Homo sapiens: one gene and its partners. The protein of the gene in region 3 purifies or fractionates together with the protein of the main gene of each other region. This does not show direct contact. Each region holds a gene or a part of one and is shown on either strand. Other genes may lie near its edges.

Region 1 (9,347 bases), on a different chromosome or scaffold from region 3:
AAAATGAATGTTATAGATAAGATATGGATAAGGTAAAGAGAAAAACAGAAAGAGTAACTGTTTGGAGAGCTTTGAAGGGTTTCGGAGAGATGGTAACTTGTGAAAATAGGGCAGGAAGTGTTAAAGAACATGGCATTTTGGAGATCCATCTCTTCGTCCTTTCAGAGCCTGCGACAGTGCATGGGGTTAGCACATACTCATTCTACTGGCATACCTTGAAGATACCGCAGATTTGGTTCCAGACCACCACAACAAAGCAAGTATCAAAATAAATTGTCACACAAATTTTCTGGTTTCCCAGTTCACATAAAAGTTATGTTCACACTATACACTAACTACAGTTAGTATTAAGTATGCAATATCATTATGTCTAAAAAAATCTAGATCCCATTAAGTACACGATTCATGGGAGGAGGCAAAATATCAACATTAACAGGAGTCTGGAAGATGTACCTACCTTAATTTAAAAATACTTTATTGCTAAAAACATTAAAAATCATCTGAGCCTTCAGTGAGTCCTAATCTTTTTGCCAGTGAAGGGTCTGCCCTTGATGCTGATGGATGTTGACTGATGAGGGTGGTGGTTGCTGAAAGGCGGGGTGGCTGTGGCAATTTTTAAAAATAAGACGATGAAGTTTGCTGCATTGAGTCTTCCTTTCACAAAAGATTTCTCTTTTGTGATGCTGCAATGCTGTTTCATAGCATTTTACCCACAGCTGAACTCCTTTCAAAATTGGAATCAGTCCTCTTAAACCTGCTGCTGCTTTACCAAGTAAGTTTATTCTAAATCCTTTATTGACATTTCAACAATGTTCACAGCATCTTCACCAGAAGTAGATTCCATCTCAATAAACCACTTTTTTTGCTCATCAATAAGAAGCAACTCATCTGTTCAATTTTTATGAGACTGCAACAACTTAGTCACATTTTCAGGCTCTACTTCTAATTCTAGTTCTTTTGCTTGTTCTACCACACCTGCAATTACTTCCTCCACTGAAGGCCTGAATCTCTCGAAGTCATCCATGAAGGTTGGAATCAACCTCTTCCAAATTCCTGTTAATGTTGATATTTTGCCCTCTTCCCATGAATCATGGATGTTCTTAACGTGTTTAGAATGGTGAAGCCTTTCCATAAAGTTTTCAATTTACAATATCCAGATGCATCAGAGGAATCACTATCCATGGCAGCTGTAGCCTTACAAATGGTTTTGACTTTTTTTTTTTTTTTTGAGACAGGGTCTGGCTCTGTTACCCAGGCTCGAGTGCAGTGGTGCAATCATGGCTGACTGCAGCCTCAACCTACCTGGGGTCAGGGAATCCTCCCACCTCAGCCTCCCAAGTAGCTGGGACCACAGGTGCATGCCACCACACTGGGCTAAATTTTGTATTTTTTGTAGAGATGGGGTCTCACCATGTTGGCCAGGCTGGTCTTGAACTCCTGGGCTCAAGCAATCCACCTGCCTTGACTTCCCAAAGTGCTGGGATTACAAGTGTGAGCCATTGCGCCTGGCTGTTATTTCTTAAATAATAAGACTGAAAATAGAAATTACTCCTTGATCCATGGGCTGCAGAATGGATGTTGTGTTAGCAGGCATGAAAACCCCACGTTAATCTCCTTGTAGATCTCCATCAGAGTTCTTGGGTGACCAAGTGTATTGTCCATGAGCAATAATATATTGAAAGAATCTTTTTTTTTCTGAGCAGTAGGTCTCAACAGTGGGCTAAAAATAATTCAGTAAACCATATTATAAAGAGATGTGCTGTCATCAAGGTTTTGTTTTTCCATTTCTAGAGCACAGGCAGAGTAGATTTAGCATAATTCTTACGGACCCTAGGATTTTTGGAATGGTAAGTATTAGCTTCAACTTAAAAGTCACCAGCTGCATTAGCTCCTAATGAGAGAGTTAGCCTGTCCTTTGAAAATATGAAGCCAGGCACTGACTTCTCTCTAGCTATGAAAGTCCTAAATGGCCCAGGCATAGTGGTTTTTGAGAGGCTTTGAGAGGCTAAAGTGGGAGGATTGCTTGAGTCCAGGAGTTTGAGACCAGCCTTGGCAACACAGTGGAATCCTGTCTCTACAAAAAAATACAAAAATTAGCCAGATGCGTTAGTTCATGCCTGTAGTCCCAGCTGCTTGAGAGGCTGAGGCAGGAGGATCACTTGAGCCCAGGAGGTCAAGGCTGCAGTGAGCTGTGATTGCACCACTGCACTCTAGCCTGGGCGACAGAGTGAGACCCTATCTCAAAAAAAAAAAAAAAAAAAAAGTCCTAGATGGCATCTTCTTCCAATAGAAGGCTGTTTCATCTACATTGAAAACCTGTTTAGTGTAGCCACCTTCATCAACTATCTTAGCTAGATCTGAATAATTTGCTTCTTCATCTCATACTTTTATGTTATGGAGATGGCTTCTTTCCTTAAACCTCATGAACCAACCTCTGTTAGCTTCACACTTTTCTTCTGCAGCTTTCTCACATGTCTCAGACTTCACAGGATTTAAGAGTTAGGGCCTTGCTCTAGATTAGGCTTTGGTTAAAGGGAATGTTGTGGCTGGTTTGCTCTTCTATCCAGACCACTAAAACTTTCTCTGTATCAGCAATGTAGCTGTTTTGCTTTCTTGTCATTCATGTGTTCAATACTGATCCCTCCGGCCCTAGACAACAATAGTCAGGTGTGGCTCTTTCCTGAAGCTCCTCTTCTTCTATTTAGACCCAGGATATTTACGGCTTCTGCTTACTCTTCTTTTTTTTCTTTTTTTTGAGACGGAGTCTCGCTCTGTCGCCCAGTCTGGAGTGCAGTGGCGCGATCTCGGCTCACTGCAAGCTCCTCCTCCTGGGTTCACGCCATTCTCCTGCCTCAGCCTCCCGAGTAGCTGGGACTACAGGCGCCCGCCACCATGCCTGGCTAATTTTTTGTATTTTTAGTAGAGACGCGGTTTCACTGTTTTAGCCAGGATGGTCTCGATCTCCTGACCTCGTGATCTGCCGCCTCAGCCTCCCAGAGCGCTGGGATTACAGGCGTGAGCCACCAGGCCCGGCTTTTTTTTTTTTTTTTTGAGACGGAGTCTCGCTCTGTTGTCCAGGCTGGAGTGCAGCTGCGCCATCTCAACTCACTGCAACGTCCACCTCCCGGGTTCGAGCGATTCTGTCTCAGCCTCCGGAGTAGCTGGGACTACAGGCATGTGCCACCATGCCCGGCTAATTTTTGTATTTTTAGCAGAGACGGGGGGTTTCACCATATTGGCTATTGGCTCTGCTGGTCTCGAACTCCTGACCTCAGGTGATCCGCCCACCTAGGCCTCCCAAAGTACTGGGATTACAGGCGTGAGCCACTGTGCCCGACCTTCTCTATATTATTTTTATTTATTTTTAATTAACAAAGCATAGAAACAGATTCAGGACATTCCTCCGAAGACGTTCCAGACTCGAGTCCTAGGACATGGTTGGGGCGGGGGTCATTTGATCGAGTGGCCTGTGTCCTTATCTGGAATACGGGACGACGCTGTAACTCTAACTCACCCTGCGAACTCACAGCTTTTGAGGTAAACAAGTGAGAAAGAAGAGACAATAAAGTGATCTTTCTTTACCATCTACCAAGGACCAGGTGGTTTACACGTCAGTTCATTTTCAGGAACACAGCAGCGCTCTGAAAACTACAGAGCTTCCTGGGCGTAGGGGGCTGTGGTCGCTTGAAAAGAACCAGCCTGGGGGTCCGAGTTCCACCGGAATTGGGTTCGAGCGCGGGTGAAAAGAGGGACCCGACAGCACCCACCCTCCAAGTAGAGGCAAAAGTTGAAAGTGGCGGGCTGGCTGCGCTTCCGAAGAAACACGACTGGCGAAGGCTCACCTTAGTCTCTACGGTGGGTCCCTCCCTGTAGCCGACCCGTTCCTTGAAGCGGGCCAGAAACGCCGGCTCGGCTGGCCGCACGTACGATACCTGGTTCCGCTTGCTCATGGTAGCTCTGGGTAAAGACAGAAGACAGGTTCCGCGACGGATTCGCGACGATACAGAGGCGCTTAGCTGTGACGTCACTGGGCCACGCCCCCGATGCGTAGGCCGGGCAACATGGCGGCCTCCATGCGGGCGTCAACGTCCGATCCAAGCGCCAAATTCAAATTTGCGGCCATCTTGAGCGGGCGGAATTCAGTCGCGCGCGGTGCAGTCGGGAGGTGGAGGCACCGGCTGCATTGTTTTCGGGATCGAGGGGTGAGGGCGCTATGGCACCCGGCTGCAAAAGTAAGTCTGGGCCCCCGGCTTCGTTACCCTATTTTTGCCCCCAAATACAGCTGTGAAAGGATGGCAGCCTCGGACCGCCCGCAAGGTTCTTGCTAGGCATGAACTGCAGGAGCTGAGTGACCGGCGGGGACGTTTGGGAATCCCGCTCTGTCGCTCAAAGACAATACGCTAGCCGAAAAGCTCATCCCTTCCTTCAGTGTCCTGTGCGCATGCCAGGAGTCTGGCGCAGTTCTAGGCGCTCGGGATGAGCAGTGGACCTGACGTTCTTCCCTTTCTTTCCCTTGGTTCTGCTGTTTCTTCGCAGGCCTCTTCCCACATCCCGACCAGGGCTACCTCTCTAGATATCCTTGTCTCAGGATCGGCTTTTGCTCCCACCAGCTTCTGCGTATTTCTACATTTCTGACCTTCCTATAGGGAAGGGTTTATTTATATTCCAAACATTTCTTTCTCCTCTTTCCTTAAATAAATGGAATGTTAAAACACAGATGTCAGCAATGTCTTTATGTTCTCACAGTCTCTATTTTCACTTAAAGGAGACCCGTCCGATTTCTTTCTCTTTTTCACGGAGGAGAGCACTGTCATTTTGCTTATGATAAACCCTACAGTTTTCACTAACGTAGTCATTTGCTGTGCCTGTGTACGTGCTCCACTTCTCACATTGCCACATCTCTTAAGGAGTCTTATTTTTGTAAACCTGATTATGAGCTGATTTAATGGGATCTTTGTGAGTGGTCTGAATGGTAATGAGGAGAGGCCTGGATTAGATGATTAAGAATTTGTGAACTTCTGTCATTTGAGCTTTCCAACGCCGTTAATGTTTCTAGCTTTCTGTCAATTGTAGTCGTTTTTGATGGGTTTGTTGTTTCATTAATCTTTTAGGTCGATCACACCTAATCGGAACACCTCCTTATGCTACCTTTTTGCATATAAAATATTCCTTTTCCTTTCATCATTTTCAGTATTCAAGGACTATGAGCTCACAAAATGGTACCTTATTGGAGAGAAATGTTCATCCTGCTTTCTGAACAATCATACTGTTTGTTCTTTGTTTCCACTTTATGGATCAGTCACTAAATCTGGACTCAAGCAAAAAATTTGATGCCTGTTAAATAAGTAAAACATCTGCTTATTTAATGAGATATATGTATGTGACTGAGGGCTCTTGTCTGAAAACCAAATTTGAGAACCTTTCTAAAGTGGTGGGAGCACTCTCCTTTATGATGGTGGTGATGCCATGGGGAACTTTTCCACTCCTTTAAGTTTGTTGGCAAAATTGAGGTTGATGACTTCCCAGTTAAAGTGCTTCTTGCATTCCCAGCAGCCCAGAGGCCTGGAGCATGAAGTGGGAACACATGGGAGAAGAGAGCCCGTGCAGTGGTCTTTGCAACTTTTACTTTGTGCCCCGAAGGCTATCTCTCTCTCTCTTTTTTATTTTTGAGACAGAGTCTTGCTCTATTGCCGGGCTGGAGTGCAGTGGTGCGATATTGGCTCACTGCAACCTCCGCCTCCCGGGTTCAAGAGATTCTCCTGCCTGAGTCTCCCAAGTAGCTGGGATTACAGGCACGCGCCACCATGCCCAGCTAATTTTTTTATTTTTAGTAAAGCCGGGGTTTCACTGTGTTGGCCAGGATGGTCTCGATCTCCTGACCTCGTGATTTGCCCACCTTGGCCTCCCAAAGTGCTGGGATTACAGGCATGAGCCACCACACCCGGCCCCATGAAGGCTATCTCTAGTGACATCATTGACACCATGAGTTGCTGACTGTGAAATCAGAGAAATGAAAAAGTGAAATATACGATTCCCCCCTTTTTTTTTTTAAAGACAGTGTTGCTCTGTCACCCAGGCTGGCTGGAGTGCAGTGACGCAATCTTGGCTCACTGCAATCTCCACCTCCTGGGTTCAAGCAGTACTCGTGCCTCAGCCTCCCAAGTAGCTGGGACTACAGGCGTGCACCACCATGCCCTGCTAATTTTTTGTATTTTAGTAGAGACAGGGTTTCACCATGTTGCCCAGGCTGGTCTTGAACTCCTGAACTCAAGCAATCCACCTGCCTTGGCCTCCCAAAGTGCTAGGATTACAGGCGTGAGCCACTGCACCTGGCCTAAGATTCCCTTTCTGAACCCAATCATGTTTGGGCAAATGACTGATGAGTATTTATCTAGACTGCAGAGTAAAGCATCCAATGGTCTGTTTTAAAGCAGGAAGACTCTTTAAAAGACTTACTGTTTTGTTGAGGTATAGCTTCATGCAGTTAAGGGCACAAATCTTAATATTATTCAACAAATTTTTACATATAAATACACTAATGTAACCACCATCCAGATCAAGAAATAGAACTGTTCCTGTACTCCAGAAAGTTCCCTGTGACCCTTCCTAGTCAATAACTACCTGATCCCCAACCATTACTCTGATTATTATTATCACTGATTAGTTTTGCTTCTATTCTTGAACTTAATATAAATGGTACAGTATGTATTCTTTTTTTATTCTGGTTTCTTCAACTGAACATTATGTCTGTGATCATTGTCCATCATTGTATGTAGCAGCAGTTCTTTTTCATTGCTGTGTAGTGTTCCATTATGTGAGTATACCATGATTTGTTTATTCTCCTGTTGATTGACATTTGGGTTTTTATTATAGTTAGGGCTGTTATGAATAAAGCTACTGAGAATAGACTTAAGCATATTTTTAGATGGACACATAGAGGACCTCAAAGTTGAAAGAATTTTACAGTGAATGCCTATAGACTTCATTTTTTTCTTTTCTTTTTTGAGACAGAGTCTTGCTCTGTCACCCAGGCTGAAGTGCAGGGGTGCGATCTTGGCTCACTGCAACCTCCATCTCTGTTCAAGTGATTACTCCTGCCTCAGCCTCCTGAGTAGCTGGGACTACAGGCAACCACCACCAAGCCTGGCTATTTTTTATATTTTTAGTAGAGGCAGGGTTTCACCATATTGGCAAGGCTGGTCTCAAACTCCTGACCTCAAATGATCCACCCACCTTGGTCTCCCAAAGTGTTGGGATCACAGGTGTGAGCCACTGCACCCAGCCTAGACTTCCTTTAAATGTCAAAATTTTATGACAGCCACATGATAAACTTTTATACTCTCTTTAACCTTTGATCAAGAGGTAGCATATTGAGGTGGTTAAGAGTAGGAGATCTGGATTTAGCATGCCTTCGTTCAAATCCTAGCACTTCTCAATGATGTTTCCTTAGATCTCAATTAGAAATAATGCCAGAACTATCTACATTTGTGTAGTTTTAAATTTCACTTTCTCTCGCTATTTGCTTATTAACTTTTCTTCTTTTTTTATCAAGTAAACATTTTACTTTGGGTTCCTTTTAGATTTACCAGAAAGTTGCACATAAGTGCAGATCAGTATCCATCTAATCATTTTCCATCTGATCAGTTACAGAGATCTCTGCAGAAATGAAGAGCTGGCAGCCTACCTTCTGGGGCTTCTTATTGTTGTTTGCTTGTGTATTTGCTTAGCAACTGGCTGGATCAATTTAGTGAAGTCTATTTCCCTCCTATACTGTTAAGCCTTTGATATTGCTCCTCAGGAATCCAAAGCTCCAGCTTTGGATATGCCCACCTTTATCCTGGGATGACAGTGGTTTTGGTAGGGATCTCTTTCTTTCTATGACTGCACACAGCTGTTAAACTCCAGTAATTGTTAGCTGATTGCTCTATTGTTTTTTAACAATGCCCTGGGCATAAATTGTCTTACAAACTACTTCAATTCTTGCTCCATTGAAGGAGTAGTTTTTGAGGTTTTCTTTCATATTTCTTGTGACTCCAGTGTAGCTACTCCTAATTGTCTTATATCCCCATTGTCTTCTGCAAGTGAACAGGCCTGCAATTTAGCTTGTATCTTGAATGTCTTCCTAATTACTTTCACTAAAACCTACACTGTTCCTGAGAGTGCCCTTAGGTTTGAACTTCTCTCCACCCCCTCTCCCCCAGACGGAGTCTCGCTCTGTCACCTAGGCTGTACCACAGTGGCGTGGACTCAGCTCACTGCAACCTCCACCTCCTGAGTTCAAGCGATTCTCCTGCCTCAGCCTCCCAAGTAGCTGAGATTACAGGCATGTGCCACCATGCCCAGCTAATTTTTGTTTTGTATTTTTAGTAGAGAGACGGGGTTTCACCATGTTGGTCAGGCCGGTCTCAAACTCCTGACCTCAAATGATCTACCTGCCTCGGCCTCCCAAAGTGCTGGGATTACATCATGAGCCACCACACCTAGACAGGTTTGAACTTCTCTATGCTTTGTTGCAAATGAATTCAGCTCCTTTGGGAAGAGATTAGGAGTTATCTGTTTATGGGCTGATTCTTCCTTTAGGCAAAATCTCAGAGCCTGGGGACTTGAGTTGGGGATGGGGATAATGGCAGTCTTGTCTCTGAGTGATACCCTTTGTAGTTGCTGAGCATTTTGTGGGGAAGGTGGGGAGTGTAGCAGCCCACCTTCTAGACTTTCCTTTCCTTGTGCAGAACCACTGCCTAATGAGTTGGGGCAAGGGTGATCAGGGCCCCAGTGTTCTTAGCATGCAGTTGCAAGATGAGGGCTGTGTGGGAGAAGGGAGAGCCCTCACCTCTCAACCACACTTGTCTGGGACTTTATCTGAGCATCAGGTAGCTAGCTGGAGACACAATGATACACTGACATCCTGCTACTCTGTGGAGGAACCCCTTGCAATTAGGAGCTGGAGGGATCCCTGTGTTCTTGGCTGCTGCAATCTACAGTGGAGTGTTTGCCTTGCTGAGATGGGAGGGAGACAGCAATCTTGTTTCAAATAACACAGGATCAACTTTCTTGATGAATTTTCATGAATGTTCTTGAACAGATGTTTCTTGGTTTGCTGTTTGTCTTTGGGAACATTTCCAGAGGCTTTAATTTTCTTTTCTTTTCTTTCTTTCTTTTTTTTTTTTTTTTTTTTTGAGATGGAGTCTCACTCTGTCTCCCAGGCTGGAGTGCAGTGGCGTGATCTCGGCTCACTGCAAGCTCCGCCTCCTGGGTTCACGCCATTCTCCTGCCTCAGCCTCCTGGGTAGCTGGGACTACAGGCGCCTGCCACCATGCCTGGCTAATTTTTTGTATCTTTAGTAGAGA
Region 2 (4,237 bases), about 41 Mb from region 3:
CAGATAATCCAGAATAACCCCCCACCATCTCAAGATTCCTAACTTAATCACATCTGTGAAGTCCCTTTCTTGCCATATAAAGTGACATATTCACAGGTTTCTGAGATTAAGTCCCGGACGTCTTTGGAGGTTGTTATTTAGCCTACGTGTTGTTTTTGTTTGGTTGTTGTTTATTCCACATTTTGTTTTTTCCTTAGCGATTTCCCTTACTTCCTGTAAACCAGTAACACAGTGAAAAAAATGCTTTATGCAGGATCTAGTTATTTTGTCTTGGGAAATCTTTCAGATTATCTAGTCTTCTGTACTGACAAAAGCACAAGACCCCCAAGAAGTTTCTAAACAATATTAATTGGCTCCAAACCTTAGAACCAGCATCTGTAGGGTTAGGTTTATACATTTTTTTTTTTTTGAGATGGAGTCTTGCTCTGTTGCCCAGGCTGGAGTGCAGTGGCACAATCTCGGCTCACTACAACCTCTGCCTCCTGGGTTCAAGCAATTCTCCTGCCTCAGCCTCCTGAGTAACTGGGATTACAGGCATGTGCCACCATGCCCAGCTAATTTTTATATTTTTAGTGGAGGTGGGGTTTCACCTTGTTGGCCAGGCTGGTCTTGAACTCCTGGCCTCAGGTGATCCGCCCACCTAGGCCTCCCAAAATGCAGGGATTACAGGTGTGAGCCACCACGCCCGTCCCTATAAATCTTTATTTTAAAACTGTTCTTCTGGTCACTCTTAAAATAAACCAGAATTGATAGTCTCTACCCCATAACATGGTTTATATCTGGTGGGTGAGACATCATGAGAGGTCAGAGCTGACACTGAGGGGGAGGTAGGAAGGGAAGCACAAAATTCTGGCCCCTGGCTCAGTACCTGGTAACACAAGCTTTCTCGCTCTTTCCCTACACAGCCACTGGGGGCCTTCTTCCATTTCTTGGTAATCTTAAATCAGCTTTCCTGTGTGACCTTACAGGTGAATAGCGGTTTAACGCTATAGAATTAGAGGTAGTGAAAGACCAAGAGGAATTTTGCCTATCTATCTAAATACTAATTGTCTTTTCAGGGCCATCATAAAGAAAGCGCCTTTTGTATGAAACCTTTGCTGGTCCATCTCTGCCAAGTATTAAGTATGATATATAGCAGGAATCTCATATAATATTTTCTCAACTAGTTGCTCTTCAAAGGTAGGGACTATGTCCAGTTCATCATCTCATAACTCTACAGCCTTTGGCCTGTAATATCAATAGAAGGTGGTTGAATGAGACACAGAGGCCAGTGGCTTAAGGTTTTATTGATGCATTAGGGTAGATGGGGCAATAGAGAGATGTCAGAGATAAAAATAGTCCTGAAACCCCCCACAAGATGAGGACAATTCAGTACAAAGGGGTGACTTGCTCTGAGTCTTCCTGCTCCTGAGAGGGTCTGCACCGCAAAGCAGGTAAGAAAGAAGAGTTCAGGATAGAAAGCTCCTTGCAGAAATTATCTCATTGAGAAAGACCTAAAAGGGAAGCTGCATAATGAAGAGCTGATGTCCAGGGATGCACCCACTGGATTGGCCATGCAGGACAAGCCAAACTCTCTCCAGCTGTCTTCTTCCAGTACTGGACATTGGAGTCGGGGAAGTCATGGCTTGGTGCTTCTCAAGTAGGAATACAGCTCTCTAGCTGTGATGCCTCGCTTCTCTTCTGACTGGGCTGCATCCTGGCCCTGTGCTGAGGAAACACTGGTATGCAAGTTGCCCTGGTCCAGCCTGAGGATCACTGTCTCCCTTGAGTGGTCATCAACCCATTCCTCACCAACCACTGTGGGCTGTCTGTCTCCCTGCCCTTCTGTCACACAGCGCCTTGGGTGAGTGCTGCTCCACTCCTGCCTTCCTGACTCAGTGCTTGCCCCAGTCTGGGCCTGTCCTCCCGGTACTGTCTCTCCTGCCTCAGGGTTGCTCACTTGCATCCATCTTTGACCACTGCCTGGCTGCGTCTGGGTCTGTCCCTGTTCTCTAGCCCCTCCGTGGCTTACAGTTTGGCTTCTGTCCTGCTCCACAGTCTCGGTGTGTGACCCTGCCTGTATCTGAGTGTGTCCTCCTGTCACAGCCTGGCTGGTCTGGCTCCTGCCTTGACCGTGGATCTCAGTCCCTCTGTTCTGGCCATTGGTGGACTCCTGTGTCTGGGTGCTGGTGCTTCCTGTCTGGTGGCTGCTGTCCTGCTCCACGGTCTGGGTGGGTGTCTGGGTGTGTGTCCCTGCCTGTATCTGAGCATGTCCTCCTGTCACAGCCTGGCTGGTCTGGCTCCTGCCTTGACCGTGGGTCTCAGTCCCTCTGTTCTGGTCATTGGTGGCCTCCTGTGTCTGCTTGCTGGTTCTTCCTGTCTGGTGGCTGCTGTCCTGCTCCACAGTCTGGGTGGCACCTGCCTGGGTCTGAGTTCCAGATCCAGTCACAGTCTCACCTGTCTGGTGGGCTCTGTCCTGTTCCCTGGTCTGTGGCTGTCTCTCTGGCCTCATCTCTGTTGTCTGATTCCTCTTGCCTTCTCCAGCTTTCTGGGTCTGCTCTGTCTGCCCAGAGAGTTGTATCTGCGGGCTTATTCTTTCCTGGCTCTGGGACTCAGCTTGCCTGTCATAGCTGCTGACCCACGCAGAGCCAGTGGCCTGACCCTGGGTCTGAACCCCAGGCCTGTTCTGCCCTCTGGAACCCTGCTGGCTCTGTCTGTGGCTGCTCCCCTCATAATGCTGCCCTTTCCCCGCCCTTCCCACTTCAGTGCCACTTCTCTGTCCTTCGCCCAGCTCCTGCGAGGCCCCAGAGTGGAGGCTTCCAGACTCTTGAGAGCCGCAGGCTCCCTCAGCACTCTCGCTCAGTGTCTTGAAACAGGCCTGGGCAACTTTAAACACTAAGACCAGGAATTCCTTGAATTCCACAGTCCCTGTGTGGTCTTCATCCAGCAGACGCAGGACCTCATCCACAGTTGCTGGATCGTGGGGTTTCTGAGGAGAAGATGAGGTGGAGTCAGCATCCCTCCCCTGAGGAGGACATGGGCAGGTCCCTTCCAATCTGCTGCCAGCTTCCCCTGCCTCAGACCCCACACTACACACACATACGGCTAGAGCAGCAGCAAGACTTAATTGCCTTTATTTTTTTTTAGTCCCGTCTCTCTCCCTCAAGTGTAGAGAGCATTTTTTGTTTGGTAGCCTCTATTTGGCACAATTTCTGGGCTACAGGAAAATTAGATAAAGATTTATTGAAGAGTTAATAAATTATTGAATTCACAATGCAACTGTTTGGGCTCTCAAGTTGACTGTCTGGGCTGCCCTTGGCACCTTGCCCCTGGCACTGAGGCCTTAGTCTCTTCAGCAGGCCCAGCACAAAGAGCAGCAGGTTGGGAACACAGCCCCATGGGAATTCTGTGCGCTCCTCATTGAGGCCCAGATGTTTCCCCATGATAAAGAGGGAGGGAAGCAGTGGGCCCCTGCAGCGCTGCCCTGAGCATGTGGATGCAGCATCCTTCTGTGCCCATATGTCCTTGTCCCTAAGGCCATCATCATCCTGGTTGCTTTAGATGCAAACCAAAGACAGGAAAGTGCATCAAGGCCTTGGTTCTGGTTTGCCAGGTGGGGTGGGGTGAGGCTCCAAAGTCTCCCCCTAGCTATTAACAACCTGCTCTTCAAAATTTCATTTCTGATGTGATCAGTCTGCTAATATTTTTGAGTAACTGCTTCGTGCAAGCCCAGAGCTATGCTTCTAATGAATGTCTATGAATGGATGATTACATTTCAGATAGACGTGGGAAATATTTACTGTATCAAATTTAAGAGGCGGCAGAAAGCAGCAATTATTTTCATTTTGAAATATTCCAAGGCTCTGCTCCTGTCTGAGTTGTCCTTTTAGAGCCCTTTTACCTTGTCTTTAAGTTAGAATTAATTAAAACCAAGGTTTTAATCTAAAGAGCCAGGACTTGCCAACTCCCATGACCATCTCTGGTTCTTTCACCTTTTTTTCTGCCTGCACAGCTGCCATCTGTCCCGGCAGGCCTGGGTTTAGCTGCTGCCTCCTCAAATTCCCCAGGCAAGGCCTCTGCAGGCAAACCAGGTTTCACTCTCCTGCTATGTCCCCTCTCCACCCGGCTCAGCACACCGTACCACAATCACATCGGCAAACTCTTGCTCCAAGAGTCTTTTCAGCTCCCCTCGGGTGAGCGCTGTGCAGTTGCCCTCCGTCCTTGCATAGCGCCTGAAGGCCTCGATGATCCCATTAAT
Region 3 (7,540 bases):
ATAGTAAGACCTGTCTTAAAAAAAAAAAAAAAAGAAAAGAAAAGATCTACCCAAAATCTCAGTAGCTCAATACAGAAAAGTTTACTTTTTGCTCATATAGAGTCTACTGGGGGTCCAAGTGACTCCCCAGAGAAACTGTCCTCCATATGTTGACTCAGTGATCCAGGGTTAGAACTCTTACCTTCACCTTCCCATCATAAAATCTCCATTGTTGTGGGAGGGGGTCAGAGCAGGTTTTGCATTAGCAATTAAATGCTTTGGCTAAATGAGACATGCATCACTTCATTCACTACCCATTGGCCAGAACTTGTCACATGACATTACCCAACCACAAGGGAGGCTCCACACAAGAAGGAGAGGAGAACTGGTTATTGGTGAGAACTAGTACTGTCTACCACACAAATCTAGATCTCTTTTGTGAGCCCCAGATCTGTGCATCCAACTGCTCTCTCAACATCTTTACCTAAATGTTCCACAGGCACCCCAAACCCAATGTGTCCAAAATTAAACTCATTATTTTTTCCCAATCCTATAACCCCTTATTTTATATTATCAACATTAGTTGATGGATACAACGCAGGAAACCTAGTTATTGCCACATCCCCTCTCTCTCTTACTTTCCTCTCACACCTAATAAATGACTAGACTCATCACCTATCTGCTCTACCTCTTCCCCATGGCCATTGCCGCTATTCAGATCATCCTAGTTTCTCACTTGGAACTCTGCAACACCAAAGGATTCTTCACCCACTGTCTGGCACCTCACCAGTCCCCCCTACACTCTGTTGCCTAAACCCAAATGTGCTTGTGTTAGTCCTCTTCAGCAGTCTTTCCATTGCCTATACGGGTAAAATATGTTTAGGGCCCGCCATTACCTGGTTTTATCTATCCTCTCCAGCCTTTCCTCTTCCATCACCCACCCTTATCCTATCCTCATTCCCCATAGCACCACCTATGGTGAAATACTTGCATTTCCCTAAACTCAACCATCGTGCCAAAGCATGCCCTTGTTTACCCTGTCCCTCTACCTGGAATACACTTCCTCCCTCGCTCTGCCTAGAAAATTATTCATCTTTCAAGGTGCAACTCAAACATTGTCTCCTCTATGAGGCTTTTCTTGACACCTATCCTCCCTCCTTATTGTGTAGCCTGACCTCTTTGTTCATTGCATCTCACTCTATCCTGTACGGATGTCTCACATCTACAATATTTCATTATGCTTATTTATGTGACTGGCCAGTCTGGAACATGCTTTTGTAGATGAATGAAGATATCTGTCTCTCTGCAACGGACAGATCCCGCAAGTCAAGAACTGTTGTCTTACTCATTATTGAACCTCCAGAGCTTGACAGGGTGTTTTCGTAGGTGCTAACTAAATGTCTGATTAATTAGTTAATCCTCCCTCTAAGTCTTGAAATACCGCTGTTTCCTTCTGTGGCTCCTCTTCCTCCTTCTTGCCCTTTGGTTGTATCTTTGATCATTGTCTAATCTTTTATCCCCCCTTGTTTTTGCTGCCACCTTCCTAAATATCTCCCAAATCCATATATATCTCTTCATCTCTAGTGCTACCATCCTAGTCCACATTACTATTACCCTCCTCAACTGTATCACTGCAGTAATCTCTCAGCCGGTCTATTCATATCTATTCTGGCTAACTTCCAATCTGTTTGCTCCAGTTTTAGTGATTGTTCCGTAATGCAAACCTGATCATGTCACCCTTGCTTAAATATCTTTAGTACAGATAAACCCACTTCTCTTAAAGACAAAAGTTGTGACGGACTGGCCCCTTCCTGCCTATTCAACCTCATCCTCATCATGCTCCACCCTCTGCCCACAACCCAGTGCCACCTCACATACTTCCTCTTTCAGCTTTTGTCAAACTAGTCTTTTTTTTTTTTGCCCTTCAACTTCCTACCTTCCTTCTGGCACAGGATTTTTAAATGTTCTGTTCCCTCTGAACTTTCCCTTCCTCTTGTTCTAGTGGAACTGCAACTCACATTTCAGATTTCAGCTTAAGTGTTGGGTCATTTTGTTATGTTTTTTGGCTCTAGGAAGGCTTCCCTGGTCCTCTTCCCCTCTGTTGTAGGCATCCATGGCACAGGGTCCTGATCCTTCACAGCACACTTAACAATCACAATTTACCATTTCTTTGTGTGGTAAGGGCCTCCTTTACTAGTCTGAAAGTTCCATGAAGGCAGCCCCTCACGCTCGTCATAATATCCTTAAAGCTTAGAATGGTACACAGCACATAGTAAATGTTCAATAAATGTTTTGGAGTAAGTGAATGAAGAAATGAATTATCTCAGCAACTGAGGTTCAAAAACTTGAAGTAATCATTGACTCATCCTACTGTTTTATTCCCAATATCCAGGTCCCAAGTTATATGTCCTCCAATTTTATGATCCCTGTGGTTTCAGCCTATACCCTTACTACACAATACCCAGAATATCACCGTACCATCTAGCTTCTTTGTCTCTACCCACAATTTATCTTATATGATATGGTACAATCTGTCATAAAGGCTATGTTTATCATGTTATATCTCAATCAAAAATATTTAGTGTTTATTTTTTAAATATTTCAAATATGTCTTGCTTGGACTTAAAGCTCCCCACCATCTGGCTGCAATCCATCTAAGTCAACTATTTTTCATCTCCCACCCTCTCCAAATGCCCCTCCCTATTTATTTATTTATTTATTTAAGCACTCTGTCACTCAGGCTAAAGTGCAATGGCATGATCGTGACTCACTGTAGCCTCAAACTCCTGGGCGCAAAGGATCCTCCTGCCTCAGCCCCCCAAAGTGCTGGATTACAGGCGTCAACCACCACACCCAGCCAAAATGTTCCACTCTTGAACTGTGCTAATATCCCAGAAATACATCACTTGAATTTCAGCAACCAACCCTGGGCCTAGGGCACCCCTCCCACAGCCCTTTCTCCCTCCATCCATCCAAAGCCTATCCACGCTCAAGGTTTACCTGAATACTTCCTTGCCTGATTTCTCCAGCTCTGCCAGCTGTGAGTTACTCTTCTCCACGTGGAAACCTCTTCCCCAGACTCTGTGCCTGGCTAGCTCCTTCTCATCTTCGAGTTCTCTAAGTGGAAATGTGCACTCCTTAGAGAAGCCTTCCCCAGTCCTCCATCTTCTCTGAAGACATTCTCCCAGTGTATTCTGTCTAGCTAGCACTCTTTTTTTTCCCTCAAGGCCCTTAATACAATGTGTCATTGACTTATCATTTACTTGTTTTTCATTTCTCTTCTCAATTATGTGGTAGAGTCTGTGAGGCAAGGAACTTTTCTGCCTTGCTCTCCGAAAAACCTGTAATAATCTGGTCAGTTATTAAACCTATATAACCTGGTCAGGCACAGTGGCTCACGTCTGTAATTCCAGCACTTTGCGAGGCCAAGGCAGGCGGATCACCTGAGGTCGGGAGTTCAAGACCATCCTGACCAATATGGTGAAACCCGTCTCTACTAAAAATACAAAATTAGCCGGGCATGGTGGCGCATGCCTGTAATCCCAGCTACTTGGGAGGCTGAGGCAGGAGAATTGCTTGAGACCAGGAGGTGGAGGTTGCAGTGAGCCAAGGTTGCAACATTGCACTCTAGCCTGGGCAACAAGCATGAAATTCTGCCTCAAAAAAAAAAAAAGAAAGAAAAAAAAAGAAAAAAAAAACCCTATAATACTAGCTCACTGTATGGCCTATAGCATTTACTTAATGAGTATATTTATTAATATTATTTTACAAATAAATATTTATAAAGAAATGATTCGCCTTCCCTTTGAAGGGATCTTAACACTCTTAACACATTTGAAGTCTGCACAGCTAGTACTTAACTCTTAGCACTGTTTGCTCTTCATTTTTCATTATCAGCCTCATCTCCCTGGTTAGAATAGATGAGATTATAAGGTTTTTGATGACAATGTCATACTGATGCGACCTCCACAGTAAATCTGGCACAGTGGTTAAAGTAAACACTTAATAAATATTTAATTAGCAAGAAACCTGTCTTGCCTCCTTATGTTCTGTCATTCATGTGTCAGACACAAAGAAAAGGTACAAAAGAAAGATTAAAAAATCATAATGTTGGGCTGGGCACGGTGACTCAGGCCTGTAATCCCAGCACTTTGGGAGGCCGAGGCGGGTGGATCACGAGGTCAGGAGATCAAGACCATCCTGGCTAACACGGTGAAACCCCGTCTCTATTAACAAAATACAAAAAATTAGCCGGGCGTGGTGGCGGGCGCCTGTATTCCCAGCTACTCGGGAAACTGAGGCAGGAGAATGGCGTGAACCCGGGAGGCAGAGCTTGCAGTGAGCCGAGATAGCGCCACTGCACTCCAGCCTGGGCCACAGAGCGAGACTCCGTCTCAAAAAATAAAATAAATCATAATGTTGACCTCAAAGAGGAAGCCTACCGTTGAGTTTAGTAAGATCTTTGCTACACACAATGTGATGCTGGCAGTGGCAGGGGCAGTAATCTTTATTTCGTCATTTTTGAAACATAGAAGCCGTAACGGAAGCAAGTGAAATGCTCAGTCTTAGACGACTGCGTCGTGCTATGACCGGACTTTTTCTTGAAAGGTAAATGCATTTACCACATGCTTTTAATCTAGATTAAATAATCACTCACCAAAAGAAAGTGTCGTCTAATTGTTAGTGGTTTCTATCACTTGTTTTCTTTGATGCAGGAAGGGTTGTATTTGAATGGTTCTATTAAGTTGATGGATTTTACGCTATCAGTAAGATTCTCCAGTGCTGGATGAAACGTGAAAAAGTATATATAGCACCGCTTCTATTTTAATTTATGCTTCTGCCAACTGTTTGGGTTGTGCTGAAAGGGAAATATATTTCCTGCTTTTCTTGGCCTGGATTTGTGAGTAGCTATTTCCCTGTGGTATTGTACGATGATTTTGTCCATTTATGTGAAAGTTAGGGTGGGGTGGCCTAATGTTTTCACAGCGGCTATGGTAACATTTTTGTAAATTCAGAACTGCTACTGTGAATTTCAGGATTTTACAGAAACCTATGATCCTATCTTCTTCCACCTCTCCAGTGGCAAAGCCTAGTGTAAGCTCATACTCTGTTTAGCACCAGCATATATTTCAATATTTTAAAAATATTATGTCAATATTTTATGATGGTCTGCAAAGAGCACCACTGACTTACAAGTTAGAAAAGGAGCAAAAAGTGTGAGAAAAATTACCACTGCCGATTCTGCTGCGGACTGTGGGCCTCCTATTCTCATGGCTCAGATTCCTCAACACATTTTCCCGTTGGCCCTTTTCTTATCTGACATTGCATGATCTAAAAATGTTTGGTGAATTGTAAGGTACTTGGTAATGTTGTTGTTGCTGCTATTGTAACAGGTACAGGGCGATGAGGTGTCCTTCTCCCAACCCTCCCACAGGTCCAAGGACTTGGAAGTTAACTTTTGAGAGCTGAACAATAAAACAATAAATAATTGATGACATTTGTTTAAAGAAATGACCTTAAAATATAGAAGAAATAACAAAGCCAAAACATTTTCCCATGAGTTTGCCTAAATACAAAGTAAAATTTTGGCCTCCTAAAAAAAAAAATCAGGGATGCATACAATGTTTTATGCACAAAAATATCTCTTTCATTGTTATTGATTTAAATAAAAATGGAAACAATTCTATCAGTAAGTGGGGAATTTGTTAAGCAAGTTATAGTACATAGCTATAATGGAAAGACCTATCACCACTAAAAAATGTTATAAAAAGTTTTTAGTGACATAGAAGAATGTGTATGGCAAAATGCTGAGTGTAAAAGGAAGATATAACCTCTTATAAAAAGAAATATCTCAAGTAGCTTTTTAAAAAATGCATGGAAGTCTGACTAAAAGGAAAGACACTAAAAACATTAATGAGTAGTAGGAGTTTGGGTGATTTCACTTTCCTGCCTTTAGATATTTTATACATTTTGATATAAAGCCTAAACAAGAATATTGGCAAACTTGAGAAGATAATACGTGAACAGATTAGAAGTGTCTAATGAGGTCTAGAGTAAGGGTCTCCAAGAGCAAGTTTGTCAAAGTTTATGTAGCAATGCCAGGGAAGAGTAAGATTGATACATCAGACCCAGTTGGCAGTCAATATAAAAATCATCCATTCATCTTCTCTCATACTTACTTCAGTTCAGTGCTTACCAAGCAAATTTATGATTTTCATTGGCATTCTTATATGTTCCCCTGATAGGCAAAATTCACTGATTGCACCAACATGTACCTAATGTTATTTCGGCTTATACATCAGTCTCCTGTGAGTTGGTTGGTGGGAATCAGTTCTGGAGAAATCAGTCATTTCTTGGTGCCCTGATAAGATCAAATTTCTGGACCTGCAAACCTGAAGGCTGGCTGCTGAGCTGCAGAAACAACACCAGAATTGTTAACCACTGATGAGTGATCTGTGACCACTGATGGCACTAGAACACCCACAAATTGCCTCTCATTGTTACTACTCTTATATGACAATCACAGTCTCAGAGCTGGCCCTTAAGCCGGCTCTCCCTTCCAAGCTTTCTAAGAGATACCTTGTTTTATTCTCAGGGGATGACAGCATGGGAGGCAATGGCTCCACATGTAAACCCGACACTGGTGAGTTTACGACAGGAATAATTACCTGCCTCACGTCTGAGTTAAAATAACTAGAAATTGTGCTGAAGGGCTGTAATGGAAAGGCACTAGCTAGTGCATTTCTGAAACTGGAAGAATCCAATTTTACCAGGACACAGAATTTAATGCCAGGAGGGGTGAAAGGGGGAACCACAGAGACCTGCCTGGCCCTCCAAATCTGAGTAAAGGGTGTCTCTGCTCAATATCAAACTAGGTGGGTCCTGCTCCCCTATTTGTGGTGTAGGCATTGGGAAAACCACTGTGGCTGTTTTTGGCTAGGCACTGCTAATAGCTGCTCTGCAAAAAGGGCAAACATAAAAGGGCAGCAGTTTCAAGGTCAAATTCCCCAAGGACTTTGGGAAGCATTTGTTGTTTCTCCCTAGCTGGGAGATGCTTTCCTTAGGCCAGAGGGAGCATATCTCTTCAGGAGTTCCTATTAAAATCTTTGAGGAGAGCAACATATGAGATTTTTTTTTTTAATCAAAGGAACACTAGGCTTGTATTTCATGTATGTAGTTGATTTTTAAGTTCTATTTTTCATTTAAAAGTACTTGGAATCTAAAAAACAATGTTCTCTCATTTTTGTAAGAGTTGCAGCCCCATCCTTAATTTCCACTGGTTGCTTGGGTAGAATGGGGCACCTGGGGAAACTTAAGCTGGAAGGGTATCATGAAAAGTGACAGATACACTAATTCCTTTTGTGTTTTCTTGTAGAAAGACAAGGCACTCTCTCCACAGCAGCCCCAACAACTAGCCCTGCACCCTGTCTCTCTAACCACCACAAGTAAATGAGCATTCTCCTATCTGTTTCATCTTGTACCACGTGGGATTTGATGTTGTGCTGACAGCCTCGGCTTGGGGATTTGGGCAGGGAGACTGGGGAGAAAGGACTAGAAACAG

Evidence for each region.
Region 1: the proteins of C1orf162 (region 3) and KIAA1143 purify together in Homo sapiens (affinity purification with mass spectrometry; 2 studies listed by BioGRID and IntAct, with this or other methods). This does not show direct contact.
Region 2: the proteins of C1orf162 (region 3) and CRNN purify together in Homo sapiens (affinity purification with mass spectrometry; 2 studies listed by BioGRID and IntAct, with this or other methods). This does not show direct contact.

The regions. Positions count from the first base shown.
Region 1 is NC_000003.12:44,757,653-44,766,999, forward strand, and holds the start of KIAA1143 (uncharacterized protein KIAA1143), read right to left. Parts: upstream 3,968-9,347; 5' UTR 3,951-3,967; coding exon 3,843-3,950; intron 1-3,842. Other genes in the region: kinesin-like protein KIF15, read left to right, coding at 4,214-4,232.
Region 2 is NC_000001.11:152,407,976-152,412,212, forward strand, and holds the end of CRNN (cornulin), read right to left. Parts: coding exon 4,121-4,237; intron 2,969-4,120; coding exon 1,619-2,968; 3' UTR 1,268-1,618; downstream 1-1,267. UniProt on the Homo sapiens protein: Promotes cell proliferation, G1/S cell cycle progression and induces expression of the cell cycle regulator CCND1. Regulates proliferation induced by pro-inflammatory cytokine response via activation of NFKB1 and PI3K/AKT signaling pathways.
Region 3 is NC_000001.11:111,469,444-111,476,983, forward strand, and holds the start of C1orf162 (transmembrane protein C1orf162), read left to right. Parts: upstream 1-4,540; 5' UTR 4,541-4,587; intron 4,588-6,574; 5' UTR 6,575-6,577; coding exon of another isoform or gene 6,578-6,585; coding exon 6,586-6,622; intron 6,623-7,354; coding exon 7,355-7,424; intron 7,425-7,540.